6 separate regions of the Homo sapiens genome follow, and regions 2, 3, 4, 5 and 6 are each linked to region 1. Evidence: fine-mapped QTL for protein levels in blood plasma. A gene starts in region 1. Each other region holds a variant in brackets. All regions are shown on one strand. Distances are from middle to middle.

Region 1 (5,080 bases):
TTGAAGGATCAAGGCATCTGAACACACAATTTTCTAACTCGAAGCTATGCGTGGGCGGGGAGGTGGGGGAAGAGGAACAAGAGAACAAACATGTGACAAACAAATTGTCAAAAAAGAGCAAGTGCCAGTTTCAGATGCATAGCACAGGAGCCCATGGGTGGAGCAGGTGGCAAATGAAGATATTTCTGTACCTGCTGTTGAACCGCTCCAAGCACAGTGGGATTCCGGGTCTAAAAGAGTTGCAGTTGCTGGGTGGAAATGAAAGTCAACATTTCAGGGCCGGGTGCATGGCTCATGCCTATAATCCCAGCACTTTGGAAGGCCGAGGTGGGCAGATCACTTGAGGCCAGGAGTTCGAGATTAGCCTGGCCAACATGGCGAAACCCCGTCTTTACTAAAAATACACAAATTAGCTGGGCATGGTGGCTTACGCCTGTAGTCCCAGCTACTTGGCAGGCTGCGGCATGAGAATCGCTTGAACCAGTAGGTAGAGGTTGCAGTGAACCATGATCACGCTACTGCACTCCAGCCTGGGTGACAGAGTGAGACTCTTGTCAAAAAAAAAGAAAGCAAGAAAATAAGAAAGCAAGAAAGAAGGAAAGAGAGAGAAAAAAGAAGGAAGGAAGGAAGGAAGGAAGGAAGGAAGGAAGGAAAGAAAGAAAGAAAGAAAGAAAGAAAGAAAGAAAGAAAGAAAGAAAGAGAGAGAAAGGAAGGAAGGAAGGAGAAAAGAAAGTCAACAGTCAACATTTCAGAGATCCCAAGATACCAACACTGACCGTGCCTGCTGCTCTTCCATCCTCCTCCACCCTGCGCCTTTGAGGTGGAATTGCGTCCTCTGTGAGCAGGGCTTTGTTAAGAGATCCTAATTAAGGCCAGGCACAGTGGCTCATGCCTGTAATCCCAGCACTTTGGGAGGCTGAGGTCACCTGAGGTCAGGAGTTCAAGACCAGCCTGCCCAACATGGTGAAACCCCATCTCTACAAAAATTAGCTGAGCATGATGGCAGGTGCCTGTAATCCCAACTACTTGGGAGGCTGAAGTGAGAAAATAGCTTGAACCCAGGAGGCGGGGTTGCAGTGAGCCAAGATCACACTATTGCATTCCAGCCTGGGCGACAGAGCTTTTGTCTAAAAAAAAAAAAAGAAAAAAAATCCTGATTAAGCAGAAGCCTTGATGCTAGTCCCAGAAGCATCCTGAAATTTCCAAAAGAAATTTCCCCCGCGGTTAAACTCAGAGCAACTTTTGGACCCACCAAGCTCTGTGAAAATCATTTTCTCTTCCAAAAACTGATGGGACCAAAGCTGATCCCAGTTTCAAATAATTATCAAAAAATTGGAAACGAAATATGATCAGAAAAGAAGAAAGTTGAAAAAGAAAATCCTCATCACCCAAAGACAACAACCATTAATATTTTGGTAATTATTATTCCAAATATCTTTCTATGCATACAGACAGACTCACACACACACACACACACACACACACACACTTTTTTTTTTTTTTTTGAAACTGAGTTTCACTCTGTCGCCCAGGCTGGAGTGCAGTGGCGCGATCTCGGCTCACTGCAACCTCCGCCTCCTGGGTTCAAGCGATTCTCCTGCCTCAGCCTCCCTGATAGCTGGGATTACAGGTGAATGCCACCACGCCCGGCTGATTTTCTGTATTTTTAGTAGAGACGGGGTTTCACCATGTTGGCCAGGCTTGTCTCCAACTCCTGACCTCAGGCGATCCACCCGCCTCACCCTCCCAAAGTGCTGGGATTACAGGCGTGAGCCACCGCGCCCGGCTACACACACACTTTTTTAATGGGCCTATGTTTTAGCACTCGCTTTTCTGTTTCTCAGTGTGTTGCAAACACCTCGGTGTCGATACACACCATTCGGCAACGTCCTCCTAAAGGGCCGCATAATATTGCGCGTCGTGGCGTGTGCCTTACTGGGAAGCTACTGCTGTCCAGGTGAACACCACAGCCTTCGGGGTCAGAAAGACAGCTTTCCCCAGAACAAGCACCTGAAGCTCTGGGGCCTGCCGCTCCCCGGGAGAGAAGTACGTGGAGAAGGGCAGCACGGATCCGCCGGGATCCCCGGGGGCATTAAAGGGAATCGCGTGTGTAAGGCGCGGAGCTCAGCATCCGGCTCAGAAACGCGCTCGGATCCCGCCAATGGCATTGAGGCCGCGTAGCCAAACCGGCCTTGAACTCTCCCTAATCCTGCCAAAATGGCCCGTCCTGGAGCACTGGACTGGCCGTGGGTTATTGATCATCAGCCGGTTTCTTCCCCTCCCCTGCCCTTCCCCCGTGCACGGATTTACTGATTTTTTTTTCCGGGAATTGAGTAAAACAAAACTAAGTGCAGATGAAGCAGAGGTACGGGCGAGTTTCGAGCGCGGGGACCGGCGCGCTCCCCCCCCCCCCTCCCCCCGCGGCGGGGCTGTCCCCAGGGACCTTCTCAGTGAATCCTAGGCGGCAGGGACGGGCCCGCGGCTCTGCGGGCCATTGGCTGCCGACTGCGTCACCTGCCCGCGGTGGGCTAGGAGACGGGAGGCGGGAGGCGGGAGGCGGGGACCTGGGCCCGGGCGGGGACGCCGCGGCAGGAAGGCCATGGCGGGGCCCGAGCGCTGGGGCCCCCTGCTCCTGTGCCTGCTGCAGGCCGCTCCAGGTAAGGGCGCGGGGCCGCGGGAGGGAGGGGGAAGAGGGCTCCCCGGGCCGGGCCGCGCCTACCCTCGGACCCGGAGCTCCTGGGACAGGCACGGGGTCCGCAGCCACCCGAGCCGGGTGCGAATCGGCCCTGCCTACGCGCCCCCAGTTTGCTTCTTCCCAGGACTGAACAGAACCGGGTCTTTGATATTCCTCTCCCGCAGGAAACGAATCCAGTTTCCTAATGCTTCCAGCTTCAGGAGAACTGGAGAAAAAAGACAGCGGCAGTTTGATACTGCATATTTTTTAATAAAGTGCTTTTTAATGTTTCCTAAAGAAAGCACTGATCCCTGCGTGAAAACCACACTTGACCCTAAAGTGTGGACAGCAGGGAAAGTGGGACCGATTGATGTCCCTTCCCGTTCCTGCCAGGCCTCTGGTGGGACGGAGCTCTGGTCGCCTGTGCCCTGCTTTCTAACAAGACGGCTTTCTTTTGGTGGTGGTTGTTGTTTTGTTGTTGTTTTGTTGTTGTTGTTGTTGTTGTTGTTTTCCCACCTCTACTGATGAGTAAGGTGTCAGGTACAAAATTCCTCGCCGTAGGACCCAACCACCAAACCTCACCGCCCACGACTCCAACCGAAGCAGGGAAGAGAAGGTCCAGAAATCGCCCCCAGGATATTTTCCTAGTCTTGGACTCACAGTTTAAAGAGCTGTAAAGGTCCCTGGGCATAATCCAATCATCATAAAAGCCTATATTTATTCAGCAACTTCTTTGTGCCAGGCACCGCATTATTCTGGAAGCCTCACGACCCAGCCATCCTCGGAGGTAGATATTATTTTTACTTTTCCGATGGGAAAACTGAGGCTCAGAGCAATTCAGGGAATTCCTCAAGAAGGATGGCAGAGGTGAGGCACACAGAAGAGAGAAGAGGGGCTAAAGCAAGCCTGGCTAGCTTTTGCCTCCAGGGTAGGCACGTGGGACAGGCTGTCCATCCACTGGGTCACTAGGCCAGCCAGGGATGCTCCAGCCCCCAGTGCCCACAGCAGCGTTCTCTGTGGCTGATGAGGGACCGTGTACCTGTGTGTGGAGGGAGGGTGGGGTCTTCTGTTCCCCTTTCACTGTCAAACCCAGACCTTCTTGTACTTTCACCTGATAAGTATTTAATATACACAACACTAACTATGGTGTGATGATTTAGGAGTAAGTACAGCCAGATCTAAGTTCAAATACTGGCTCCCACACAAACTGACTGTGTAGCCTCAGGCAAGTTAGTTAGCATCTGTCTCTGAGCCTAGCGCCCTTTCCATGGAAGCAGAATGAATGACACCTACCCCATAGGGTGGTCTGTCCCAAGGGTGATTGAGGTTTTACATGTAAAGAGCCAAACTAGTGCCTGGCATCCTTTGAAGGCTTCATAGAGGAAAGTTGCTCTAACTGCTGTTTTTCTCATGTGACCTAGCTCGAATCTGGGGACTGTCCTGCCCATAGGATACCTTACAAGTGGCTTGCAGACAGCCTGGTCTCCTGCTGGTCACCCGTTAGGAAGTCCAGAAGCTGGGAGTAGTAATAGCACTAGCCTCGTGGTGATACAGTCCCAGCTAGAGGACACAGGATGAGGTGGAAGCAGGCACCCACTTTTGGGTCTAGAAGGTGATGGGTAGGCAGCCGAGGCTGGGGACAGCCATCCACAGAACTGGACCCTCCCTCCCTGATGCCATTTTGCAACCCGTATGGATTTCCATCATGGCACATGGGACACTTCAGGACCCTGAATTCTCCATGGGACCATGAGCTCCTATAGGGCAGGAATGAAGTTGTGTTCTTCTTTGAAACCCCTGGCACACCGTGGTCAACAGATCTTGTTTGACTCGTAGTGGTCAATAGATGGAATAGTTGGAATCATAAAGCTCAATAGACCCCATGAGAACCTAGAAGACAAAGTACAGTCAAGAGCTCGGACTTTGGAGTTGGCTAGGCCTGGACTGAATCTGATTCTACAACTTAATAGCTGAGAGGGCCTTGGTTTTCCCATCTGTAACGATTATAATTATTATAATGAATACCTACCTCCTAGGGATGTAATGAGGATTAAAAGAGAAAGTGCAGGTAAACTGTTTAGCACAGAACCTGGCTCACAGAACACAATACACATTAGCTGCTATTATTATTATTATTATTTTATTTATTTATTTTGAGACAGAGTCTCACTCTGTCACCCAGGCTGGAGTGCAGTGGCGCAATCTCGGCTCACTGCAACCTCCACCTATCGGGTTCAAGCAATTCTCGTGTCTCAGCCTCCCAAGTAGCTGAGATGACAGGCGTGTGCCACCATGCCCAACTAATTTTTGTATTTTTAGAAGAGACGTGGTTTCACCATGTTGGCCAGGCTGGTCTCAAACTCCTGACCTCAGGTGATTTGCCTACCTCTGCCTCCCAAAATGCTG
Region 2 (5,069 bases), 32 kb after region 1:
CCCAGTCCCATCTGGTGTGTTCTGGGATCATCTCCCAAAGAAACTGCTTACACTTGAAGCCTTGTCTGAGGTCTGTTTCTAGGGGAATTCAGATGATGATAATTATGCTTCAGGAAAGCCTAAATTTTCTGCTTTTCTCTCCCCTACCCAAATCAGGACTTTTCTGGACACACACACCCTGTGGCAACCTTTCAGCCCAGCAGACCAGAGTCCGTGAATGACTTGTTCCTCTGTCCCCAAAAGGAACTGACCAGAGGGGTCAGGCCGACGCCTCGAGTCAGGGCCCCAGCCACCCAACAGACAAGATGGAAGAAGGACCTTGCAGAGGACGAAGAGGAGGAGGATGAGGAGGACACAGAAGATGGCGTCAGCTTCCAGCCCTACATTGAACCACCTTCTTTCCTGGGGCAAGAGCACCAGGCTCCAGGGCACTCGGAGGCTGGTGGGGTGGACTCAGGGAGGCCCAGGGCTCCTCTGGTCCCAAGCGAAGGCTCCTCTGCTTGGGATTCTTCAGACAGAAGCTGGGCCAGCACTGTGGACTCCTCCTGGGACAGGGCTGGGTCCTCTGGCTATTTGGCTGAGAAGGGGCCAGGCCAAGGGCCGGGTGGGGATGGGCACCAAGAATCTCTCCCACCACCTGAATTCTCCAAGGACTCGGGTTTCCTGGAAGAGCTCCCAGAAGATAACCTCTCCTCCTGGGCCACCTGGGGCACCTTACCACCGGAGCCGAATCTGGTCCCTGGGGGACCCCCAGTTTCTCTTCAGACACTGACCTTCTGCTGGGAAAGCAGCCCTGAGGAGGAAGAGGAGGCGAGGGAATCAGAAATTGAGGACAGCGATGCGGGCAGCTGGGGGGCTGAGAGCACCCAGAGGACCGAGGACAGGGGCCGGACATTGGGGCATTACATGGCCAGGTGAGCTGTCCCCCGACATCCCACCGAATCTGATGCTGCTGCTGCCTTTGCAAGGACTACTGGGCTTCCCAAGAAACTCAAGAGCCTCCGTACCTCCCCTGGGCGGCGGAGGGGCATTGCACTTCCGGGAAGTCCACCTAGCGGCTGTTTGCCTGTCGGGCTGAGCAACAAGATGCCCCTCCCTCCTGTGACCCGCCCTCTTTAGGCTGAGCTATAAGAGGGGTGGACACAGGGTGGGCTGAGGTCAGAGGTTGGTGGGGTGTCATCACCCCCATTGTCCCTAGGGTGACAGGCCAGGGGGAAAAATTATCCCCGGACAACATGAAACAGGTGAGGTCAGGTCACTGCGGACATCAAGGGCGGACACCACCAAGGGGCCCTCTGGAACTTGAGACCACTGGAGGCACACCTGCTATACCTCATGCCTTTCCCAGCAGCCACTGAACTCCCCCATCCCAGGGCTCAGCCTCCTGATTCATGGGTCCCCTAGTTAGGCCCAGATAAAAATCCAGTTGGCTGAGGGTTTTGGATGGGAAGGGAAGGGTGGCTGTCCTCAAATCCTGGTCTTTGGAGTCATGGCACTGTACGGTTTTAGTGTCAGACAGACCGGGGTTCAAATCCCAGCTCTGCTGTTCACTGGTTGTATGATCTTGGGGAAGACATCTTCCTTCTCTGCCTCGGCTTCCTCATCTGCAGCTACGCCTGGGTGTGGTGAGGGTTCTAGGGGATCTCAGATGTGTGTAGCACGGAGCCTGCTGTGTCCTGGGTGCTCTCTACGTGGTGGCCGGTAGAATTCTCCATCTATCCAGGCTCCAGGAGACCCCTGGGCATCTCCCACCTGTGGCCCCTAAACCCAGAGTGACTGAGAGCACTTAACATTCAGCTTGTCTCATCCCCAGTCTACCTCCTTCCTTCTACCCTCACTGCCTCCCAGTCAGGAGAGTGAGCTCTCAGAAGCCAGAGCCCCACCCAAGGGGACCCTGGTCTCTCCGCCTTCACCTAGCAATGGGAACCCTGCTTCCCAGGGGAGGAACCAACTGCTCCACCTTCTAGGGACCCAGTTTGTTGGAGTAGGACAGTAACATGGCAGGAATCGGACTTCTGGGCCTGTAATCCCAGTTTGGATGGCACGTTAGACTCTTGGTTGACCGTTGTGGTCCTTAGAAGTCCCATTCTCCCTTCCAGTTATGAGAAACCAATGCCTTCTAGATTCAGGTGACTATCCTTACCTGGGGGTGCTGATGCATCCTCAGTTAACCTACACCCACCTGAATATAGATGAGCGTAGCTGAGTTTTCACCCGTAGGACCGAAGTGTTTTGTGGTGGAGTATCTGAACAACCTTGGCTCTGTGGCCATTCAACCTGCCAGGACTAACATTTCTGGATTTGTGAAGAAGGGATCTTCAAAGCCATTGAACCCACAGAGCTGTGTTGCTTTAAAGCCACCACAAGGGTACAGCATTAAATGGCAGAACTGGAAAAGCTTCTTAGGGCATCTCATCCAGGGATTCTCAAACCATGTCCCCCAGAGGCCTTGGGCTGCAGTTGCAGGGGGCGCCATGGGGCTATAGGAGCCTCCCACTTTCACCAGAGCAGCCTCACTGTGCCCTGATTCACACACTGTGGCTTTCCACGTGAGGTTTTGTTTAGAGGGATCCACTACTCAAGAAAAAGTTAGCAAA[C/T]CACTCCTTTTGTTGCAAAGGAGCTGAGGTCAAGGGTGGCAAAGGCACTTGTCCAAGGTCGCCCAGCAGTGCTGCTCTGATGACTTGTGCACATCCCCAAGGGTAAGAGCTTCGATCTCTGCACAGCCGGGCCAACCTCTGACCCCTTGTCCATGTCAGTAAAATATGAAGGTCACAGCCAGGATTTCTAAGGGTCAGGAGGCCTTCACCGCTGCTGGGGCACACACACACACATGCATACACACATACGACACACACCTGTGTCTCCCCAGGGGTTTTCCCTGCAGTGAGGCTTGTCCAGATGATTGAGCCCAGGAGAGGAAGAACAAACAAACTACGGAGCTGGGGAGGGCTGTGGCTTGGGGCCAGCTCCCAGGGAAATTCCCAGACCTGTACCGATGTTCTCTCTGGCACCAGCCGAGCTGCTTCGTGGAGGTAACTTCAAAAAAGTAAAAGCTATCATCAGCATCATCTTAGACTTGTATGAAATAACCACTCCGTTTCTATTCTTAAACCTTACCATTTTTGTTTTGTTTTGTTTTTTTGAGTCGGAGTTTTGTTCTTTTTGCCTAGGCTGGAGTGCAGTGGTACAATCTCGGCTCACTGCAACCTCCACCTCCCGGGTTCAAGTGATTCTCCTGCCTCAGCCTCCCAAGTAGCTGGGATTACAGGCACCCGCCACCACACCTGGCTAATTTTTTTGTATTTTTAGTAGAGACGGGGTTTCACCATGTTGGCCAGGCTGGTCTCGAACTCCTGACCTCAGGTGATCCGCCCGCCTCGGCCTCCCAAAGTGCTGGGATTACAGGCGTGAGCCACCGCGCCCAGCCAAACCTTACTATTTTTTTAAAGAATTTTTTCCAGAGTTTAATTTCTGACATAGCTTAAGTTTTCCAGTAACTCTAAACTCCATCTCCTTTATCGTCATTAAGTCATTCACAAAAAGCCAGGAGAAGCATTTGGAAAGGGCATGATAATCAGTATAATAATTTGCCTTGTGTGGTCAGCACTTAACTGTTTACAAAGCCCTTTCACGTGCACAGCAGGTGGGAACTGCGCGGTGTGGGCTGGGCCTGCGCTGGAAGCATATCCCGTGAAAAGTGTTAGTGCCTTAGGTGAAAGCAACATGTATCCCTTTAGACTACTAACGGTATATGTTGTTCTTATGTATTTGTATTTATTTCTATTTTTTCTATGTTTATGTCATATTTAAACGATATCCTACTGCTTGTTGGTATTACCCTAAACTGTTTAAATAAAGAGCTCTATTTTTAAAGAAAAAAGGTACAATTGAATGGAAAAGCGTATGCTCTTATCTTTTTTTTTTTGAGACAGGATCTCACTCTGTCATGCACGCATGCCCCACCAGGCCTGGTTAATTTTTTTGTTTTTGTAGAGATGGAATCTCCTATGTTGCCCAGGCTGGTCTCAAACTCCTGGGCTCAAGCAATCCTTCCCGCCTCGGCCTCCCAAAGTGTTGGTTGGGATTATAGGTGTGAGTGACCGTTTCTGGCCTATGCTCTTATTTTTCAAAGGCTCCTCACCTCTCCTCTGGGAAACCTAGCTGTTAAGGCTACAAGGGTCAGCCAGGCAGGGTGGCTGATACCTGTAATCCCAGCACTTTGGGAGGCCGAGGCGGGCAGATCACGAGGTCAGGAGATCGAGACCGTCCTGGCTAACATGGTGAAACCCTGTCTCTACTAAAAATACAAAAAATTAGCCGAGGGTGGTGGCGGGCGACTGTAGTCCCAGCTACTTGGGAGGCTGAAGCAGGAGAATGGCATGAACCCGGGAGGTGGAGCTTGCAGTGAGCCAAGATCACACCACTGCACTCCACCCTGGGCAACAGAGCCAGACTCAGTCTCAGAAAAAAAAAAAAAAAAGACTACAAGGGTCTTGAGTCGGGTCCCCAGAAGCAAACCCAGAGAAAAGGTAGAAAGGTAGAAAGCAGTGCAGTGATCCAGGTAACGCCAGGAGGGGAGTGTGGAGGCAAGATGGGGCGGAGGGTAGGGGAGGAGGGGAGTGTGGAGGCAAGATGGGGAGGAGGGTAGGGGAGGAGGGCAGCCAGGCAAAGTGTGTCATCAACAGGTCCCTGCTGTGGGCAGCTGGACCTCAGTGCCCCTGGAGAGCTCTGGAAGTCAATGTAGGATGCAATTCAGATTTGGTCCCACTGCCAGGGGCAGGAGCCAGGGAGTCTAGCTACTCCCTCCCATCAGTCCAGTGTGGAGGCCGTTCCCTGAGGCAGAGTTGCAGGTACTTGCAGTTGGAATCCACCAAGCTGAGTGCACAAGAAAGGGGAGTGCCATGGGGCTGAGGGCAGGGTCCCCAGCCAATATCCCTTGTTGTAGTGAGGCTGGAGCTGACAGCTCACCCAGCTGCAACTATGGTCCATGGAAGGATATGGAACAGCACCTGTGCGCCTAGCTTTGCATTGCCAAACTCATTCCAGCAGCTCTCCATTAGCAAGGGTCT
Region 3 (5,086 bases), 91 kb after region 1:
AGGTGCCAGGCCCTGTGCTGGGTGCTTTTCACATACGATCCATAATCCCTGCCACCATGCTTGAGGGAAGCACCCCATGTCGCAGGTGATGAAACAGGCTCAGAAAGTTAAGGCTCTTGTACAGCTACTATGCGACAGGGCCTGGTGTGAGCCATTTCTCTCTATCTGGGTTGTTTCCCAAACACCAAACCCTCCACCTCAACCAACCCAGGCCTCAGAGACACAAAGATAAGCAGAACACTCATCTTACCCTTCAGAAGTGGGGAGACATAAATATCTGACCATATAAGGGAGGTGCCCCATGGACTCCACAGTCAAGGAAGGTGCGCAGGCCCAGGGGGACCTCCGGGGCAGGCAGGACTGGCCCTGGAAGCAAGAGGGGTTCCTGTGCTGAGTGACCAGGGGCAAAAAGGAGGCACCAAGGGGCCTCTGCTTGCTAATGGGGCCAGAGGTGCCACATCCGACCACCTCCTCTCTGTCACCAGGGTGCCCCTGGGATGGAGCTGGCCCAGGCTTCCACTGGGAACATGACAGGGTTGGCCTGGTTGGTGGTGAGACCCACACCTAAGACTGGGAACACCTGGGTGTCTGGCTCAGTTCTATCCAGATTGCAGCCTGCCTTGACCAAGTTTGTCTGCTGCTCTCTGAGAAAGGAGGAGGCTCCCGCTCCAGGATCCTTGTTTGAAGCTGAGTTGAGTTCCATTTGCTCTGTGACTCTGGGAAAGTCACTTAACCTCTCTGATCCTCCACAGTCAGCAATAACTGCAATGTGGCATGTCATATTTTTAAAGCACTTTCTCCTGAGACGGTTTAGGTGGTGTCGTGTCCCCAGTTTTTCAGAGGACACCGAAGCATGGAAAGGTGCAGTGGCCAACCAGAAAACACACAGCTTTTCAGAGATAATGACCAAAGTCTCTTCCTGGCACCGTGAGGCTTTCCTTAGTTCCAGCCTTTCCCACCCACACAGGGGACTTGTGTTTCCCATGGAGCCCAGCAGTCTTGGGAGGAACTTCTCCCTCTCTCCTTTTCAGATGCGCCATTGAGGACTCAGCAACTTACACTGTGCGAGTGAAGAACGCCCACGGCCAGGCCTCCTCCTTCGCCAAAGTCCTCGTCCGCAGTAAGTCCTCCCAACCCCAACAGGCACTCCGGGCCACAGCAAACCCAAGCTGGGCAGACAAGGACATGGGTCTGCGTGAGACCTGAGGAAGGGCCATAGGCACAAGGCTGTTCAGCCTGGCATTGGGTGACCAGGGCAGCCCTGGAGACTCCCGCTTCCCTGGGGGCCTTCACAGCAAGCGATAGTCTCCTCCATCAGCCTGGGCTGATGGTGGAAGGTGAGTGAGGCAGGATCACCTGTCCCTGTGGGTTGGTGTCAAGAGCAGCTGGGAGATGGGAAGGGAACTGACCTCTCCTGAGTCTTCACTGTGTGCCAGACACCCTTGATAGTACCTGATTCCATCCTGAGCCAGCCGGTGGCAGGGCTGGGACTTGAACTCAGCTCTCTCTGTAGAGTCATCACTGGCATGGTGGGCACCTTTGTGTGAACTGAATGGATGAATTAGCGAAAGGGGCCCCTTTTCTGCAGGCAGGTGCAGCTCCCACTCCAGGGCACATGGCTTGGCAAATGGAAAACAGACTGAATTTTAGCCCCCAAGTTGCTCTCTCAGGGGATAACTTTGCACAGAGCACAACCTACACAGTTATTCAAGGCGAACCCACCTGCCCGCCATGCCAAAGAGCATGCTTGGCCCACCGGATTGCGCTTAGGTTGGGATCCATCTCAGGGCCTCTGGGAGGGTGGTCTGGCCCCACCAACCCTGCTGAGGGGTCCTCAGGGACAAAAGCCAAACCCCAGCAACTCCCCACCTGACCCCCACTGCCCCATGTGGGTCCTTTTGCACATTTTCCAGCTGGGCTTGGGCCCCTCCTGGAGGTCACCCCATGGGCATCTGAAATCACAGCATAAAGCAGGTAGACACTCAGGAGTCAGCCAGACCTGAGTTCACATCCTGGCTCTGCTGCCAACTGGCTGTGTAAATCTGGGAAGCCACCTCACTTCCCTGAGCCTCTATTTCCTCATCTGTGAAAGGGAGAATCCTACAATCCTACCACCTCTCTCAGATGCCCGAGTTGATTAAATGAGATGATACGTATAAGCCTTGGCATGTGGTACCCATTCCCATGACCAGGGCAGGGCACTGCCCAAGGGGGTCACACCTTTGGGCCCAGAAGAATGCCGTGCCCTGAGTTCCAGGACCCCCGGGAGAGAGAAGCCCACGTGTGCACACATACACACACACACACACGTGCACTCATACACACACGCGCACTCATACACACACTCCTGAGGCAGCTGTCTTGGGCAGTAGACAGGTGGA[T/A]CCCAGGCCACCCTCCCTGCCTCTCATCAGACCTTGTTAAACTGTCCTGCACAGCCCTCTCCACCCACTGTCCTGTTCCCTAAATAGCTCTTAGGAGGCAGATCCTGCTGCCAGGCCAAGCTCTTGTGCAGAAATTTGAGCTGTCCCCACAGTCCATGCCCAGAGTCAAGCCCAAGGTCAGGGACTGGGGCCCTGCCTCCCTCTGCCCACCCGTCCTTCCCACCACTCCTTCCAGATCCCTGTCCCTCTCTCCATCAAGGCTGGCAACTCCAGGGTCCACCAGGCTTGCTCTTGGCCCCAGACTCCAGCCAACCCTCTGCTTCTCCTACTCCACTCACCGCCACTACCACCCTCTTCTCTGCTTTCATCTCCGTAGCCACTTGGGTGATTTTAGTGGCCTGGGGGACAGGAGCCCTGAGTTCCAATCCTGACTCTTCCACTGACCTGTGTGATCTCGGGCAGCCTCCTGCCCTTCTCTGGACCTTGCTCAGGAAGGGCCTTTCCAGGGACCAGTGTCATGTCATAGCTTCAGGCTGCTGGGGTGTTGTCTGGACGGCTGTGCCTCAGTTTTCTCTTCTGTTTGAGAGGATAATAATAGTACCAACTGACAGGGCTGTTGTGAAGATAGAATGAGTCAATGTGTTTATGTGTTTAATTGGCTCGTTCAATCCTCAGAGCATGGGGCGAGCACTGTGTGAGTGAGAGCTGCTGTTACTATTCTCTGGTGGTCTGTGGCAACATTACCTTGGATTTCACCCTTCAGCCCCTGGATGCCTCTCAGTGCTGCCCCTCCCCCACCACTCTCCCTGATCCCACCAGAAATCCCCGCGCCTCTGAGCGGGCTTGACCGCTGTGAAGACAGTGCATAATCCTGGGGGCAAGTTTGGGTAGGGAAAGGAAACCAGCATGTATTGAGAACCTGCCATGTGTCAGGCTATGGCTGGTGGCTTGATTCATGTGAACCCGCTCGTTCCTTGCTCCAGGTAGGAATTACTGTCCCATTTTACTGCTGAAGAAACTGAGGCACAGAGAGGTAAAAGAACTTTCCCAAAGCCACAAGGGGAAGCCACCAACAGACCAGGACTCAAACTCATATCCAAAGCCCATGTCCCCAAAATAGCATAGGAATGTGGGCTCTGAACCTTCTCCAACTCTGTTTGCCTTTGGTTTTTCAGCTTACCTGGGGAAGGATGCTGGCTTCGATTCAGAGATCTTCAAAAGTAAGTCGGCTGGGGGAGAACGGGACCTGGGATTCTTTGTTCAGGCTTTGCTCCCCGACCCCCACAGTCCCTGTTTAGAATATAGCCATCCCCTGCCCATAAAAGGACGTCCACCGGGGTTTGTCTATGAGCTGGTAATACCTGCACCTGACTTCTAAAGGCCGCAGGGTACCCCAGAGCTGTCCCCAGCTGCTGAGCTGTTCTCTGACCTAAACTGGGTTTGAAAGGCAAAGCCAGAAAAACCAACGGACTTGGCCTTGGGATGTTTGCTCTTTGGCTGCTCTGACCACTACCTAGATAAGTCTCTTCCCCTCCTACCCCAAGGCCAGGTCCCCTTCTCCTAGTCAAGACCCAGAAGAGAAGGGATGCCCCAGAAATTTCCTCACTCCTAAGTCCCAGGCCAGGCTGGCTGCCTCAAAAACTTCTGCCCCAAATTTCATTCCCACGCCAGGATCGACGTTTGGCCCCAGCGTGGAATTCACCTCGGTGCTGAAGCCAGTCTTTGCTCGTGAGAAGGAACCCTTCTCCCTGTCATGCTTGTTTTCGGAAGATGTGTTAGATGCTGAGAGCATCCAGTGGTTCCGAGATGGTAAGGACCCCCAGTCCTGGCCCCCAGCCTCCAGAGCTGGCCCCTCCAAAGCTCAACTCAGAGCCAGAGAGGACCCCTAGCGGACAGAGACTCTCCCCAACCAGTACCAACTGTGCTAAAGTGCTGAAGAGGCAGAGGAGAGCGGGAGTGCAGCCAGGTGTGGTCAGATCATGCCACCCCATAAATGGCCACCAAGCATCTGTGGGGTGCCAGGCCCTGGGTTAGGGCTGGGGTAAATGGTAGGGGCAGATGTGCATGAGCCCAGGGGGCTGTGTCCACCTGGGAGGAGGGAGGAAGCCATCAGCACAATTGTAGCCGCTGGCACTGACCAGGCACCTGCTCAGCCATTTGCATGCATCATTACCTCCCTAAGAGTGAGGGAGGGAGGCCAGGCGTGGTGGCTCACACCTGTAATCCTAGCACTCTGGGAGGCTGAGGTGGGTGGATCACCTGAGGTCAAGAGTTCAGGTCTAGCCAACATGGCAAAACCCCATCTTTACTAAAAATACCAAAAATTAGCCAGGCATGTTGGTGGGTGCCTGTAATCTAGCTACTCGGGAGGCTGAGGCAGGAGAATCGCTTGAACCCAGGAGGCAGAGGTCGCAGTGAGCCGAGATGGCACCATTGCACTCCAGCCTGGGGGACAAGAGCAAGACTCCATCTCAAAAAAAAAAAAAAAAAAAAGTGAGTGAGGGCACTCAAAGCAATGGGAACAGAGCCCCAAGATCGGGAGGCAGGAGGGCACCACAAGTGCTCAGGGCAGGCTGCAACAGTTGCATCGGACTTTGCAGAGTCAGGGTGGTGGTGCAGATACAGTTGCTGACCCGTGGGCTGGGAGGCCTCTGGGGATGTCTCAGGCGAGGCCTTGAGAAGCCTGGTCAGAGCCAAGGCAGGAA
Region 4 (5,086 bases), 13 kb before region 1:
CAGCACGGTCTCCCTCCATCTTAGTCAAGCCCTGTGCCCAGCACAGGGCCGAAAGACAGAAGATGCCCACTGAGCCCCCAGTGAACACCTGAGTCTGAAAGATGAGTGTGGTCTGAGTGGCGAGTGACTCACCTGTGCCTGAGGCTTAGGAGACCCACCTCCCAGGTTCCCTTTAGCTCGCTGTGATCTGAGCTTGGGAGCATCGTGGAACAGGTCCCTGCCTTTTATTCCATCTGCACAGCAGGGTTAGTCCTGCCCGGCTCCATCTCTGAAGAGGAGGAATCAAAAAAAGGGATTTTACAGAGTTGAGGGGGAAGAGAGAGGGCGCAGGAAACCTATTCCAAGCTGGCATGTCCTGCACGTGCCTGCTGGCTTTGGGGAAGTTGGCGGCCGCTAGGGGCCTGGACAAGAAGGAAAGGTTGGCCAGGGCCTGGGTTGCCAGATTCAGCAGCTTGGCTGGAGGCTATAAGCAGGAGGAGGCCAGGAACTGGATCTGAGAAGAGAGGACCAGTCCCAGGAAGAAAGCTGAGACACTGCTGTCTGGGAGGAGCCAAGAGCTTGGTTTATTGTACCAGGAAGAAAAGTCTAGGCCTCTGCCAGGGCAATCATCAGAGAACACTGCTCCAGGGAAAACTGCCTCCCACTTCCTGGACCTCTGTGGGCAATAGAGAAGTACATGTCAGCAGTGCCTCCTGCTGGACAGCCCCAACATTACACTATTTGTCCAATGTCAGAAACAGAATGTAAGACGGATGTATCTGGAATGTTCAAGCTGGAGTAACACCATCCAACAACTATTACTGCTGCTGCTGCCACTTTTATTGATGGTTGACTGTGTCCCAGGCACTGTGCTAAATAATTTTATTGGATGATCTCAATGTTCACAACAGCCCTATGAAATAGGAACTATTACTAATCCAATTTTTCAGATGAAGAAACTGAGAAACAGTTTTTTTCTGAGGTTTCAAGTTAGCTGGTAGCAAGATTAGCTGTGCAGCCCAGGCCTCTCTAGCCCAAAAGCCCATGGTTTTTTGTTGTTGTTGTTGTTTTTTGAGACGGAGTCTCACTCTGTCGCCCAGGCTGGAGTGCAGTGGCGCGATCTCGGCTCACTGCAAGCTCCACCTCCAGGGTTCACGCCATTCTCCTGCCTCAGCCTCCCAAGTAGCTGGGACTACAGGCACCCGCCACCACGCCCGGCTAATTTTTTGTATTTTTAGTAGAGACAGGGTTTCACCATGTTAGCCAGGATGGTCTTAATCTTCTGACCTTGTGATCTGCCTGCCTCAGCCTCCCAAAATGCTGGGATTACAGGCGTGAGCCACGGCGCCCGGCCCAAGCCCATGGTTTTAACCGCATTCTTGGGTATCTCAACCAGTTCAGGATGATGGAGAGTTTTCGTTTTTGTATCATCTCCACTTGGTTGGTAGAGGCTGCCTAGAGCTCTGGGTTGAGAGGATTCCTGAGTGCTGTGATGAATTTGTGATATCTGCCAGCGGCACTGGAAGGGATGTGGCCGCATGCGTGTGAGTTATGTTTTCATCTCTGATCTAGTCCAATCTATTGTATACTGTGATCCTTATAGGACCCTGAGAAAAGGAATCAAGGCTAAATCTTTTTTTTGAGACTGGGTCTTGCCCTGTTGCCCAGGGTGGACTGCAGTAGTGTGATCACAGCTCACTGCAGCCTCAACCTCCCAGGCACAAGTGATCCTCCTACCTCAACCTCCCAAGTAGCTGGGACCACAGATGTGTGCCTCCACACCTCACTAACTTGTTTTGTTTTTTGTAGAGATGGGGTCTCCCTATGTTGCCCAGGCTGGTCTCAAACTCCTGGGTGATCCTCCCACCTCAGTCTCCTAAAGTGTTAGGATTACAGGCGTGAGCCACCGAGCCCAGCCTAAGGCTCAGTTTTCTGACCTCTGTCTTTACTCAATCACTCGGTGACCTAAAAGGCATCTCAAATGTAGCATGTCTAAATATGGAACTCTTGATTTGCACCTCCAAACCATCCCTCCACCATCTTCCCCACTAAGTAAAAGGCACCGCTAGTCTTTGTTGGCTCAAGACAAAAAGCCTTAGTATCACCCTTGACCTCCTTTTTCTCTCACCCCTGACATCAAATCTTTCAATACATCTCACTGGTTCTCCCCTTGAAATATATCCAGAATCCAGCCACGTCTCACCACCTTCACAGCTGCCACCACCATTGTCTTCCCTGGACTAATGTAGTAACCAATCTTGCTCCACGTGTCCTTACCCCCTGTATTAGTCTGTTTTCATGCTGCTAATAAAGACCAGAGACTGGGTAATTTACAAAGAAAAAGAGGTTTAGTAGACTCACAGTTCCAAGTGGCTGGGGAGGCCTCACAATCATGGCAGAAGGCAAAAGGCACGTCTTACGTAGCAGCAGACAAGAGGGAATGAATGAGAGCTAAGCAAAAGGGGAAACCCCTTATAAAATCATCAGATCTTATAAGACTTATTCACTACCATGGGAACCGTATGGGGGAAACTGCTCCCATGATTCAACTGTCTCCCACCAGGTCCCTCCCACAACACGTGGGAATTATGGGAGCTACAATTCAAGATGAGATTTGGGTGGCGACACAGCCAAACATATCACCCACTACACCTTAGTCTCAACTCAGCAGACATCCTTAGGCCTTCTCGGTTTTTCTTTCTTTTTTTTTTTTTAATTATACTTCAAGTTTTAGGGTACATGTGCACAACGTGCAGGTTAGTTACATATGTATACATGTGCCATGTTGGTGTGCTGCACCCATTAACTCGTCATTTAACATTAGGTATATCTCCTAATGCTATCCCTCCCCCCTCCCACTTCTCGGTTTTTCAAAGCACTTTGGCATAAGTTACACACACACACACGCGCGCACACACACACACACACACACAGAGTAAAGCGAGGCAGGAAATTGTCACTCCCATTTGACACATGAGAAAAACTGAGGCTTGGAAAGGTGATGCAAAGACATCAAAGACACAGCGGGGGAGTTGCCCCAGCTCTTACTGTGACGCCATACACTGCCATTTCCCTTCTGGACATGACCCTCTGTCTCCCACAGCCTC[C/A]TATGGGTACATCCGAGAGTCTCCCAAGAGGCTGCAGAACGTCAGGTAAGGAGAATGTCAAGGAAGCCAGGAGAGTTGGTCTTCTCTCTGCCTTGGAGGGCCCCAGTCTAAGAAAAAAAAAACGTTATCTCTTTGGTCTAATCCGCGGTCTCGCAGTCTGGACCACTTTCCTTTGGTATGTGGTGCCCCCTGGTGCTCACTCTTAGGAAATGCAGCTGGTTATCTAAGCTTTAGGGGAGAGGGGTGAGCTTTCATGGTGGAGGTGATGCCTGGGGGCTCTTCTGACCACCCTCTCAGAGGAGCTCCCTCCCAGCACAACTGTTCCATGCCTTAGAGACCAGCGTGTGCGTCCAGGTTGATGAGGGCCACACTGCTCCTTTAAAAATTCACCAATCCACGACTTCTAGTGGGAACCCAAATTGGTACAGCCTTTTTGAAAAGTCATTTAAAATAATAATAATAAAATAAAATAGCTGGACATGGTGGCTCATGCCGCAATCCCAGCATTTTGGAATGCTGAGGTGGATGGATCGCTTGAGCTCAGGAGTTTGAGACCAGCCTGGGAAACATGGTGAAACCCTATCTCTACAAAAAATACAAAAAATTGGCCAGTCGTGGTACACGCCTGTGGTCCCAGCTACTCAGGAGGCTGAGGGGGGAGGGTTTCTTGAGCCTCGGAGGTCAAGACTGCGGTAAGCCAAGATTGTGTCACTGCACTGCAGCCCAGATGACAGAGTGAGATCACGTCTAAAAAAAAAAAAAAATTAACTTGGGAGGCCAAGGTGAGAGGATCACTTGACACCTGGAGTTTGAGACTAGTCTGGACAACATCACAAGACTCCATCTCTTAAAAAATTAAAATACTTAGCCGGGTGTGAAGGTGCATGCCTGCAGTCCCAGCTACTTGGGTGGCTGAGGCTGGAGGATCGCCTGAGCCCAGTTCAAGGCTTCAGGCAGCCATGATTGTTCTGCTGCACTCCAGCCTGGGTGACAGAGCGAGAACCCATCTCTAAAACAAATTTTCTTAGTTAAAACTTTAAAAAATATTTTAAATGACATACTCATGATATAATGTGAGCTACTAAACATATATATAAAATACTGTATATGTACTAAACTCACAAATGGTAGCAATGAGTCTCTCTGCAGAGTGAGATTATATTTTATTTTTATTCTTTATAATTTTCTATACTTTCCCAATTTTCGGCATTCAGCATGTTTCACTTTTCTAAAGTATAGTTTTGTGAAGGAAAAATTATAATAAATCCCTTTCCATCTGGTTTCCTGTCCCTGTCATCTGCTGTATGCTGGTCAGAACATCTCTGGAGCACTATTCAGTGAGCAACAGGAGAGTTAAAGATTTGTCCACCAGTGAGAACACGTGTGCATTACAGTGGAGGAGCTTCTGAACGCCTTGCTTTACTCAGGGATTCCAGAGTCCCAGCAGGGGCCGGAGGAAGAAGAACAGACTCCTAGAGAGGAAGAAACTTTGACCTCAAAAATGAAGAAACAGAGGACCAAAAGGAAGCTCTTGACCAAGATTCTTAGGCAGATGGAGACAGGGTTGGGTTTAGCATTGGTCACACAGCAGATGGAGACAGGGCTGGGTCTAGTGTTGGTCACACAGCAGATAGTCAGGTTGCCTGACCCGAATTCCTGAGTTCTTCCCCCACACCAGCAACCTGGAACTTCTAGAAAAAGCCCATGAACACGCAAATGAACACAACAGTGAGAAACCTCTCTTGGCAAAACATTATAAGCTGGCTGAGACCTAGGATTGACTAGGATGTTAGGAAAAGGATAGTCTCATATATCCTACCGGTAGGAAGTTGGTTCAGCCACCATGGAGAGCGACTTGCAGTATCTGTAGTATCTGTTAAATTTTAAAATGCACACACCCCGCCAGGAGCAGTGGTTCAGGCCTGTAATCCCAGCACTTTGGGAGGCCAAGGCAGGCAGATCACCTGAGGTCAGGAGTTTGAGACCAGCCTGGCCAACAT
Region 5 (5,000 bases), 57 kb after region 1:
GTTGCCCAGGCTGGTCTCAAACTCCTGGGCTCAAGAGATCCTCCTGCCTCAGCCTCCCAAAGTGCTGGGTTGACAGGCATGAGCCACCGCACCCGGCCAACTTAAGACATTTTTGAAAAGCACAGAACTGCCCACTTTGACAAGAGCATAAAGACATGTAAAACAGTTTCTTAAAACATGGTCCCAGCCAGGCACGGTGGCTCACGCCTGTAATCCCAGCACTTTGGGAGGCCGAGGCGGGCGGATCACGAGGTCAGGAGATGCAGACCATCCTGGCTAACACGGTGAAACCCTGTCCCTATTAAAAAATACAAAAAATTAGCCGGGCATGGTAGTGGGCGCCTGTAGTCTCAGCTACTCAGGAGGCTGAGGTAGAAGAATGGCGTGAACCCGGGAGGTGGAGCTTGCAGTGGGCCAAGATCGCGCCACTGCACTCCAGCCTGGGCGACAGAGCAAGACTCCATCTCAAAAAAAAAAAAAAAACACACACACAAAAACCATGGTCCCAAACAAACAGCATCAGAATCTCCTGCAGCACTTGTTTAAAATGCAGATTCTTGGGTCCCCTTCCAGTCAACTTCATCAAGTTATTGCACTTGCATCCCTGGGATCTGAATTTTAGTGAGCAACCCAGGCGCTTCTTCCCCAACGCAAAGCTTGAGAACCTCTGACGTGGAGGGACCCCGGGAGATAAACCTCAGAAGACTGGATGGGACTATGCTGTAGAAGGGATAGGGTGGTGGAGGGGACGAATTTTTGTTTCTTTCGGTAGTTGGGGGAGCCACTAGAGATTACTAAGCAGGGAGAGTCCTTATCACAACTATTTTTTGGTAAATATTTAGGGTCTTATTAAATATTTTATTGTTGATTTCTAATTTAATTCAATTTGTGGTCAGAGAACACACGCTGTATGATTTCAGTCCTTTTAAATTTATCGAGGCTTGTGTTATAGCCCAGCCTATGGCCTGTCCTGGTGAACGTTCCTTGTGCACCTGAAAAGAATGTATATTTTGCAGTTGGTTGGTGGAGTGCGCTATAAATATCAATTAGGTAAAGGTGATTAATTGTGTTATTCAGATCTTCTATGTCTTTCCTGATTTAGGTGAGAGGTCAATTGGTCGTTTAATTGTTGAAAATAGTAAACTCTCCAACTATAATTGTGGATTTGTCTATTTTCCCTTTAATTCTGTGCATTTTTGCTTCGTGCATTTTGAAACTCAGTTATTAAATACATATATATTTATGATTGTTGTATCTTCCTGATAGATTGAACCTTCTGTCATAGGAATTGTTCCTTTTTATTTGTAGTCATACTCTTTGTATTGAAGTCTACTTTATCGATATTAATATAGACACTCCAGCCTTCTTATGGTTTGCATAATATATGTTTTTACATTCATTTTCAATCTGCCTCTGTTATTATATTTAAAATGTATCTCTTGCAGACAGCTCTGACAGCCTTTACCTTTTTTTGACATTAATTCACATGCCATAAAATTCATTCTTTTAAAGCATACAATTCAGGTGTTACTTGCCTATTCACAAAGTTGTGAAACCATCACCACTATCTAATTCTCCCTTATCAATCTTTCTTCAAGTTCTCTATTTTTTCTGTCATTTCCAAAATGTTTTTGAGATAATTCAGTGGGTTTTTAAATTTCAGATAATAATATCTAGAATTTTTCAACTCTAAAGTTCCTAGATTTTATAGTTTCCATATTCTACTGAGATTTTCTATTCATTCATTCAATATGAGCTTATTTTGTTTCACTTCCTGGAGCATTGTTATACCGCTGCTTTAAAATCATTGTTGGCCAGGTGAGGTGGCCCACGCCTGTAATCCCAGCACTTTGGGAGGCCAAAGTGGGTGGATCACTTGAGGTCAGGAGTTCAAGACCATCCTGGCCAGTGTGGTAAAACCCCATCTCTACTAAAAATACAAAAATCAGCTGGGCATGGTGGCAGGTGCCTGTAATCCCAGCTACTCAGGAGGCTGAGGCAGGAGAATCATTTGAACCTGGGAGGCGGAGGTTGCAGTGAGCTGAGATTGCACCACTGCACTCCAACCTGGGTGACAGAGTAAGACTGTGTCTCAAATAAAATAAAATCATTGTCTGCTAATTCAACATTTTGGTCATCAGGGTCAGTCACTATTATCTTTTCTCTTGAATATGGGTCGCATATTCTTTCTTTGTATGTCTAACAATTTTGAAATGTATCCTGGACATTGTGTTGAAATTACTGTAGATTCTGTTATATTCCTCCAAAGAGTGTTGGTTTGGTTTCATCCGGTTTTGGTAGGCAATTAATTTGGCTGAACTCCAAACTCTGAAATCTCTCTTCTTTTTTTGTTGGTTAACTTTACCTGGGCTGCTTGGAGTCTACCCCATTCATGCCTACTTTAGGGGCCGGTCAGGGATTTGAGCAGAGTTTATATACAGAGTTTGGGCCTCCTTCTCTACACTCTCCCCTGTCTGTGCTTTCTCCCCTCATTTTCCAGCTGCTGTGATTATTCCAAGCCCTGCCTTTTGGGTATTCAAGCCACTGAGAATAAAGGGTTTCTGTCTAGGTTTAGCCATTCCACAGGGTGTAGACTGAGGTCTGCCTTCAGGCTACAAGACAGTAAAAATGGGAAATGTACCCATCGACATTTCTCCTCTCTCCAATATATGCCTGCTTTTATTTTCTCTCCAATGCTTTTAAGTAGTTGGTTTTCATTTTGCTTAGAATTTATAGTTGTTATTTTGGGGATGTTTGGTCCAATAGAAGATATAAATTACTAGGATTAGAATGAAGAAAGATCAAATATGGAAATGGAAGAGATATCAGGCTGGCAAGTCAAAAGATTATTGCAATGGTATAGGCTGGAA[A/G]TGAGGGCCTGAACCAGGATGGAGGTCGTGAAAAACTTGGGAAAGGAGGAATCAGGGCCTTGGCAACTCTCCTGGAGTTATGTCTCATGATATGTAATGTGTCCAGTTCCAACCACATGAGTTCCACAAAACAATAAGTTAAAAAATTTATTTATGTACTTCTTCACTCACTGTCACCACCATCCCCATAAACACACACAAAAGAAAACAGTAAATTACCCTCAACCTTGGCCTCCATGTGCCTGAAAAAGAGAAGGCAGAGCTGAAATACAAAGAGCCAAAGAAAATTCTCAGTTTTTGAACTCCCGAGAACACAGGTTCTGGCCCTTTAAAGGAAGATTTCTGGATCCTTTAAGGGCAATTTGATACCAAAGATATGAGAGGGGATTTGTCCAAAATGGCTTCAAGGTTTAGGCCCTGGAGATTAGAAGAAGAGTGATGCTATTATCAAAATTAGAGAATCAAAAGCAGATTTGGGTTTGGGGTCTGGGATGGGGCCAGCCCCAGAGAGAGGAGGGCAGCATGTTCGGACATGTTGACTTAGAGATGCTCACATGGTACTATTCAGCAGGGAGCTGGCAGGGCCCATCAGAAACTCTACAGCTCTTCCTGAGATAAGTTTGGGAGTTATCCACACATCGGTGCTCACAGCAGCCATGGGTTCAGATAAGATCACTAAGTGGCTGGAGAGTATGTGAGAGAGAAGGAAATGGTTGAAGAGCAAATCTTGCAGAACAACATTGAGGGGCTAAAACCAGCGAAAGACCAGTCAGAGAGGTAGGAGGAGAGCCAGACAGGATAACATGTGGCAGCCATGGGAGAGGAGTTCTGGGTCAAAAAGGTGAGAGATACACAGAAGAACGAGAATCAAAACACAGTTCCAGCAGAAGGATTGGCAGATGCAAAGAAACAAGGGCTTTCTTATGCAAGGTAGGTGTTTACCCGAGTGGCAGGTATCCAGCATTGATGAGCCTGCAGAGCCAGGTGGGCTGCAGAGACAAATGAGTCTGGACTGGAAGCCAGGCACCAGGACTCTATTCTGTAAATATGGGTGAGGCCATCAAAGCCTTTTGAATAGAAGAGCATTATAATGAGATTGTCTTTTAGAAAGATTCCTATAAACACTAGGATGAATATGGAAGTGAACAGGGGCAAACCCAGAGATGGGCGACCATGAAAGAGGCTACTGCTAGAGTCCAGGCTGAAGCCTTGAGGCCCAATTAAGGCAGAAGCAATGAGGAAAGAAAGAAAGGAATGGGTGTTCAAAAAGTTTATGATGTTTAACCACAAAAAGGTGAAGGACAAGAGGAATTGGAAGAAGGAGGGATAGTGGGAGCGTGGGAGGGTGGTGGAGGTCATAATGACAGCTGCCATTATGTGTGTATAACCACACATTTTATATATATATATATATATGTATATAACCACATTATATAGTGTGTATAACCACTGCCTATGGGCCAGACACTATTGCAAGTGAAAGGCACACGTGCTTGGAGACTGATTGGATTTGGGGATAAAGCAGAAGGGAGGGGAATGGAAACAGAGGCTGAAGACAGACCCATCAGCATCAAACCAGAATCCAGGAGGAGCGAGCAAGCTTCCTTGGGCTCTATGTGGAGATCGGTGTGTAACAGGAATCACATTCCATTCTCTGTCCAATTCAGCACCTTGGAGGGAAGCAGAGAGAATATGAGTTCTTCGGCCTGACCCCTGACACAGAGTTCCTTGGCACCATCATGATTTGCGTTCCCACCTGGGCCAAGGAGAGTGCCCCCTACATGTGCCGAGTGAAGACACTGCCAGGTGAGTTCGGCTGAAACCAGAGGGAGGTGGGGCTCCCGAATTCAAGTCTTGACTCTTCTCTTTCCTCCCTGTAACCAAGGTGAGACTTGGCAACACTCTAGAAAACCATGGAAGGGTTATCAGTGTGTTATTGAAGTCAATCTTTGTTTATCCATAAAAGAGTTGGCTGATGAGTTATCAAAGCAAATGTTTGATTCTCACCCTCCAGCCTATGTCTGGATTTCCCCTCTCTGACAGGCCTTATGTGTACCTTGGCAAAGCAAACTCACCTTAATATTAACCCAGGTGAGATATACTGGAGGGAAAATCTGCAGGGGGGAAGCA
Region 6 (5,086 bases), 420 kb after region 1:
GGGCCTCCCAAAGTGCTGGGATTACAGGTGTGAGCCACCACGCCCAGCCTATTTTCCTCATTTTTAGAGAAAGAAACTGAGAGATTAAGTGACATGCTCAAGTCCACATGGCTAGAAAGTGTGGGGTTTGAAGCCAAGTCTGACGTCTGACTCCACAGCCTGTGCCCTTAGCTGCCCTTCTCTGAGCCTTGTGGATTACCTAGAGCCCAGGCTGTCATGATTACCTTTGGAGGTTTTTTTGTTTTTTTTGGTCAGCATACATTTTTCTCTGGATTTTTAGTTTTTTCCAATAAGTTTTGGGGGAACAGGTGGTGTTTGGTTACATGAATAAGTTCTTTAGTGGTGATCTCTGAGGTTTTGGTGCACCCAACCTTTGGAATCTTTAATGCTGTTAGCAAATATTCCCAATTCTCTGCATCCAGGAACATGGATGGATTGTGCTTCCTTGACCCCATGAATTAAGGTGCAGCCAATGCAATATGATGGCAATGATAGATGTCACTTCTAGACAAAACTTAACAGTTATATCAATATTGTAATTAATATTATTTTTTATTATTATAATTAATGTTAATAATATATTAATATTCTCTACTTGCCTCGAAGATCTTACAAGCATGGGAATGGCACCTCCCTTAGCCTGGGCCCCTGAGTGAGGATGACATAAAGCAGATCCCTGTCAGACTCACAATGGACAGGCGGTGAGACCTCTGTTGTTGCAAGCCACTGAGATTTGAGGGTTGTTGCTGCAACAGAACCATGTCCAAGGCTTCTCAACCTTGGCTCTATTTACATTTTCGGCCAGATAATTCTTTGTTGGGGGAGGGGCGCTGTCTTGTGCATTGTAGCATGGATAGCAGCATCCGTGGCCTCTGCCCACTAGATGCCCATAGCTCCCCAACAACAGCGACAACCAAAATGTCTCCAGATGTTGCCAAGTGTCATACTGGGAACAAAGTCACCTCTAGTTGAGAACTACTGCTGAGCCTATTCCTTTTTCCTTTTTTTTTTTTTTTTTTTTTTTGAGACAGGGTCTCACTTTGTCACCCAGGCTGGAGCTTTGTCACTCAGTGCAAACTTTGCTTCCCAGGTTCAAGAGATTTTCCCACCTCAGCCTCCCAAGTAGCTGGGACTGCAGGCATACGCCACCACACCTGGCTAATTTTTGTATATTTTGGTAGAGACGGAGTTTCACCATGTTGGCAGGCTGGTCACAAACTCCTGACCTCAAGTGATCCACCTGCCTCACCTCCAAAGTTCTGGGATTACAGGCATGAGCCACCGCACCTGGCCGGCCATTTTCTTTAAATCCAGAAGAGGTGGCAACACTGGGCCCTGTCTTCAACCCGGAAGCAATAAAGTGGAGCTGTGTGAATAGCTCCATTTTCTTTCTGTTCCCATCACAGCCTGCTGTCACATACCAAACCCCTGGTATTTGAGTTTGTGGCCGTAAGAAATTAGGTGGTCTTCCTTTTTAGTGGTTGTTAGAAGCTGCAGTTTAAGGGACCCGAAAAAATTAGAATGGGGCCCCAAAACAGAAAAGTCAAACTAACTCTGAGGAAGCAGGCACTAAGATTTCATTTATCAGGAAGGACTTGTTGACCTCAAAATAGTTCTTAGCTTGTGACCCTGAAGTTTGAATTCCCATCAGTAAAAAACAAAACCTTTTTCTTTCATTCCACATTTAGAGGGAAAGAAGGAGGGACACTAAAATGTGGCTCCCCTTCTGTCATTGAATCCTTATAAGAATTCCTGCAGAGTGTCATAATTCCCATTTTACCAATGAGGAAACTGAGGCTCAGAGAGGTGTGGGAGTGGTGGAGGCAGGATTTGAACCTGGGTCTCATCCCAAAGGTCATGCATGCTTTTTCCACTACACTAGACATTCCCAAACCAGGCCGCTCATCGAGTTCATTGGGGGAAGCCTACAAAAGCGTACCTGTTTCCAGATCCTACCTTTGACCTATTCAACCATATTTCTTCAGTAGGGCCCAGAAACCTGTACTTTAAAGAATTATTTGTGGCCGGGCGCCGTGGCTCACGCCTGTAATCCCAGCACTCTTGGAGGCCGAGGTGGGTGGATCACGAGGTCAGGAGATCAAGACCATCCTGGCTAACACGGTGAAACTCCGTCTCTACTAAAAATACAAAAAATTAGCCGAGCGTGGTGGCGAGAGCCTGTAGTCCCAACTACTCGGGAGGCTGAGGCAGGAGAATGGCGTGAACCGGGAGGTGGAGCTTGCAGTGAGCGGAGATCGCGCCACTGCACTCCAGCCCTGGTGACAGAGTGAGACTCCGTCTCAAAAAAAAAAAAAAAAAAAAAAAAAAAAGCCAGGCGCGGTGGCTCACGCCTGTAATCCCAGCACTTTGGGAGGCCGAGGCGGGCAGATCACGAGGTCAAGAGATCGAGACCATCCTGGCCAACATGGTAAAACCCCGTGTCTACCAAAAATACAGAAATTAGCTGGGCATGGTGGCGCACACTCGTAGTCCCAGCTTCTCGGGAGCCTGAGGCAGGAGAATTGCTTGAATCCGGGAAGCGGAGGTTGCAGTGAGCCAAGATCGCGCCACTGCACTCCAGCCTGCCAATAGAGCAAGACTTTGTCTCAAAAAAAAAAAAAAAAAAAAGAATTATTTGTGCAGTTATTTGATAACTGTCTCCCTACTAGATGAAAGCTTCATGAGGGCAAGGGCCATGTCTCTTTTTTTTTTTTTTTTTTTTTTGAGACGGAGTTTTGCT[C/G]TTGTCCAGACTGGAGTGCAGTGGCACAATTTCGGCTCACCGCAACCTCCACCTCCTGGGTTCAAGCGATTCTCCTGCCTCAGCCTCCCAAGTAGCTGGGATTACAGGCATGCACCACCACGCCCAGCTAATTTTGTATTTTTAGTAAAGACGGAGTTTCTCCATGTGGGTCAGGCTGGTCTCGAACTCCTGGCCTCAGGTGATTCATCTGCCTTGACCTCCCAAAGTGCTGGGATTACAGGCATGAGCCACCATGCCTGGCCTTTTTTTTTTTTTTCTTTTTTCTTTTTTGAGACAGGGTCTTGCTCTTTCACCCGGGCTGGTGCGCAGTGGGATGATCTTGGCTCACTGCAGCCTCAACCTCCCCGAGTTCAAGCAATCCTCCCACCTCAGCCTCCTGAGTAGCTAGAACTACAGGTTCATGCCACCATGCCCAACTAATATTTTATTTTATTTTGTTTTATTTTTATTTTATTTTGAATGGCATGATCTTGGCTCACTTCAACCTCCACCTCCCAGGTTCAAGGTATTCTCCTGCTTCAGCCTCCCGAGTAGCTGGGATTATAGGCATGTGCCACCACACCCGGCTAATTTTGTATTTTTAGTAGAGATGGGGTTTCTCCATGTTGGTCAGGCTGGTCTTGATCTCCTGACCTCAGGTGATCTGCCCGCCTCAGCCTCCCAAAGTGCTGGGATTACAGGCATGAGCCACCGCGCCTGGCCTAATATTTTATTTTTTTAGAGACAAGATCTCACTATGTTGCCCAGGCTAGTTTCAACCTCCTGGACTCAAGTAATCTCTCACCTTGGCCCCCCAAAGTGCTGGGATTACAGCTGTGAGCCACTGTCCCCAGCCTGCCATGTCTGACTTAGTCAGTGACACAGAGTGGGAAGCAATGCAAGTATTTGCTTACTACTAAATCAACAAGCTTCCTAGTCCTGACCTAGGGACCTGCTGTGAAGAGCTATTCCACTGTGGCAAATTCTCTGGAGCAGTTCTCAAACTTCAGTGTACATTTTAAGAATTGCTTAGTGTCGGCCGGGCGTGGTGGCTCATGACTGTAATCCCAGCACTTTGGGAGGCAGAGGCGGGTGGATCATTTGAGGTCAGGAGTTCAAGACTAGCCTGGCCAACATGGTGAAACCCCGTCTCTACTAAAAATACAAAAATTAGCCGGGTTGTAGTGATGCATGCCTATAATCCCAGCTACTTGGGAGACTGAGGCAGGAGAATCGCTTGAGCCTGGGAGGCGGAGGTTGCAGTGAGCTGAGATCACGCCACTGCACTCCAGTCTGGGGAACAGAGCAAGACTCCATCCCCCCAAAAAAAAAATGCTTAGTGTCAGGCCAGGCACAATGGCTCATGCCTGTAATCCCAGCACTTTGGGAGGTCGAGGCAGGTGGATCTCACCTGATCTCACCTGAGGTCAGGAGTTCAAGACCAGCCTAGCCAACATGGTGAAACCCATCTCTACTAAAAATACAAAAGTTGGTGGTGCACGCCTGTAGTCCCAGCTACTAGGGAGGCTGAAGCAGGAGAATCACATGAACCCGGGAGGCAGAGGTTGCAGTGAGCCGAGAGTGATCAAGCTACTGCATTCCAGCCTGGGTGACAGAGTGAGACTTCACCTCAAAAAAAAAAAAAAAAAAAAAAAAAAAAAAAAAAAAAAAAAAAAAATCGCTTAGTGTCTCAGTCATTTCAGGCTACTGTAACAACTTACCATAGACTGACTGGCTTAGGCAACAAACATTTACTTCTCACAGTTCCAGAGGCTGGAAGTCCAAGATCAAGGCGCTGGCCAATTCTGTGTCTGGTGAGGGCCCTCTTCTTGGTTTGCAGACTGCCGTCCTCTCATTTCCTCACATGGTGGAGAACAAGGAGCAAGAGCAACTCTCATTTCTCTTATGAGGGAGAATCCTATTCATGAAGCCTCTACCCACGTGACCTAATTACCTCCAAAGGCCTATCTAATACTGTCACACTGGGTCTTAGGATTTCAGCATAGGCATTTTGGGGGGACACAAACATTTAGTCCATAACACTTGAGTTGCATCTTTTTAAATGCATATTCTGAGGCCCCAACCCAAGACTCTGTGCTTGAGAAACAGATACAGTGATATAAAATTTTGATGGCTGGAACTTTCCTTAGTCTTTGAAAAGAGTTGAGACAATAGACATCATAGAGAAGTTCAGGGGGCCGGGCGAGGTGCCTCATGCCTGTAATCCCTGCACTTTGGAGGCCAAGGTAGAGTGATTAAGCTCAAGAGTTCAAGACCAGCCTGGGCAACACGGCAAAACTCCATCTCCCAAAAAAATACCAAAAAATTATCTGGGAGTGGTGGTGC

Which allele goes with the higher level. Positions count from the first base shown, and alleles are read on the strand shown. Strength reflects both the effect of a copy and how common the allele is. Not every link is listed here.
For the plasma level of the protein whose gene starts at base 2,559 in region 1, T is the high allele of the variant in region 3 and A is the other (weak association).
For the plasma level of the protein whose gene starts at base 2,559 in region 1, G is the low allele of the variant in region 5 and A is the other (weak association).
For the plasma level of the protein whose gene starts at base 2,559 in region 1, C is the high allele of the variant in region 6 and G is the other (weak association).

Evidence for each region. PIP is the chance, under the fine-mapping model, that this variant and not a neighbour inherited with it causes the effect. The UK Biobank Pharma Proteomics Project read protein levels with antibody pairs (Olink). The fine-mapping took linkage between variants from a reference panel, not from the people measured, so its PIPs are less certain.
Region 2: its variant is fine-mapped to the plasma level of the IFNLR1 protein (UK Biobank, PIP above 0.99).
Region 3: its variant is fine-mapped to the plasma level of the IFNLR1 protein (UK Biobank, PIP above 0.99).
Region 4: its variant is fine-mapped to the plasma level of the IFNLR1 protein (UK Biobank, PIP above 0.99).
Region 5: its variant is fine-mapped to the plasma level of the IFNLR1 protein (UK Biobank, PIP above 0.99).
Region 6: its variant is fine-mapped to the plasma level of the IFNLR1 protein (UK Biobank, PIP 0.99).

Annotation. Positions count from the first base shown.
Region 1 is chr1:24,184,768-24,189,847 of GRCh38, reverse strand. It overlaps IFNLR1 (interferon lambda receptor 1), which reads left to right and starts at 2,559. Exons shown (of 7, transcript NM_170743.4): 1 at 2,559-2,657. The coding sequence starts at 2,600. RefSeq lists a silencer at 2,297-2,786.
Region 2 is chr1:24,152,979-24,158,047 of GRCh38, reverse strand. It overlaps IFNLR1 (interferon lambda receptor 1), which reads left to right. Exons shown (of 7, transcript NM_170743.4): 7 at 157-3,880. The coding sequence ends at 918. LOC124903879 (a long non-coding RNA gene) reads right to left here. Exons shown (of 3, transcript XR_007065544.1): 2 at 2,856-3,036; 3 at 1-793. Among named protein-coding and RNA genes, the nearest start is that of IL22RA1, 12 kb to the right of the region's middle. RefSeq lists enhancers at 3,358-3,955, 3,956-4,553, 4,554-5,069. The variant C/T (reference allele first, on the strand shown) is at 2,598.
Region 3 is chr1:24,093,957-24,099,042 of GRCh38, reverse strand. MYOM3 (myomesin 3) reads left to right here. Exons shown (of 37, transcript NM_152372.4): 7 at 1,032-1,120; 8 at 3,557-3,601; 9 at 4,053-4,190. LOC124903878 (a long non-coding RNA gene) reads right to left here and starts at 2,997. Exons shown (of 3, transcript XR_007065543.1): 1 at 2,826-2,997; 2 at 1,453-1,619; 3 at 1,069-1,202. It overlaps LOC105376864 (a long non-coding RNA gene), which reads right to left and starts at 337. Exons shown (of 4, transcript XR_007065542.1): 1 at 251-337. The variant T/A (reference allele first, on the strand shown) is at 2,382.
Region 4 is chr1:24,197,646-24,202,731 of GRCh38, reverse strand. LINC02800 (long intergenic non-protein coding RNA 2800) reads right to left here and starts at 2,492. Exons shown (of 3, transcript NR_027087.2): 1 at 2,341-2,492; 2 at 133-268. RefSeq lists an enhancer at 3,061-3,170. The variant C/A (reference allele first, on the strand shown) is at 3,087.
Region 5 is chr1:24,127,817-24,132,816 of GRCh38, reverse strand. It overlaps IL22RA1 (interleukin 22 receptor subunit alpha 1), which reads left to right. Exons shown (of 7, transcript NM_021258.4): 5 at 4,538-4,676. Among named protein-coding and RNA genes, the nearest start is that of IL22RA1, 13 kb to the left of the region's middle. The variant A/G (reference allele first, on the strand shown) is at 2,871.
Region 6 is chr1:23,764,539-23,769,624 of GRCh38, reverse strand. All of the region lies in intron 3 of ELOA-AS1 (ELOA antisense RNA 1), which reads left to right. Among named protein-coding and RNA genes, the nearest start is that of ELOA-AS1, 11 kb to the left of the region's middle. RefSeq lists a silencer at 3,532-3,826. The variant C/G (reference allele first, on the strand shown) is at 2,741.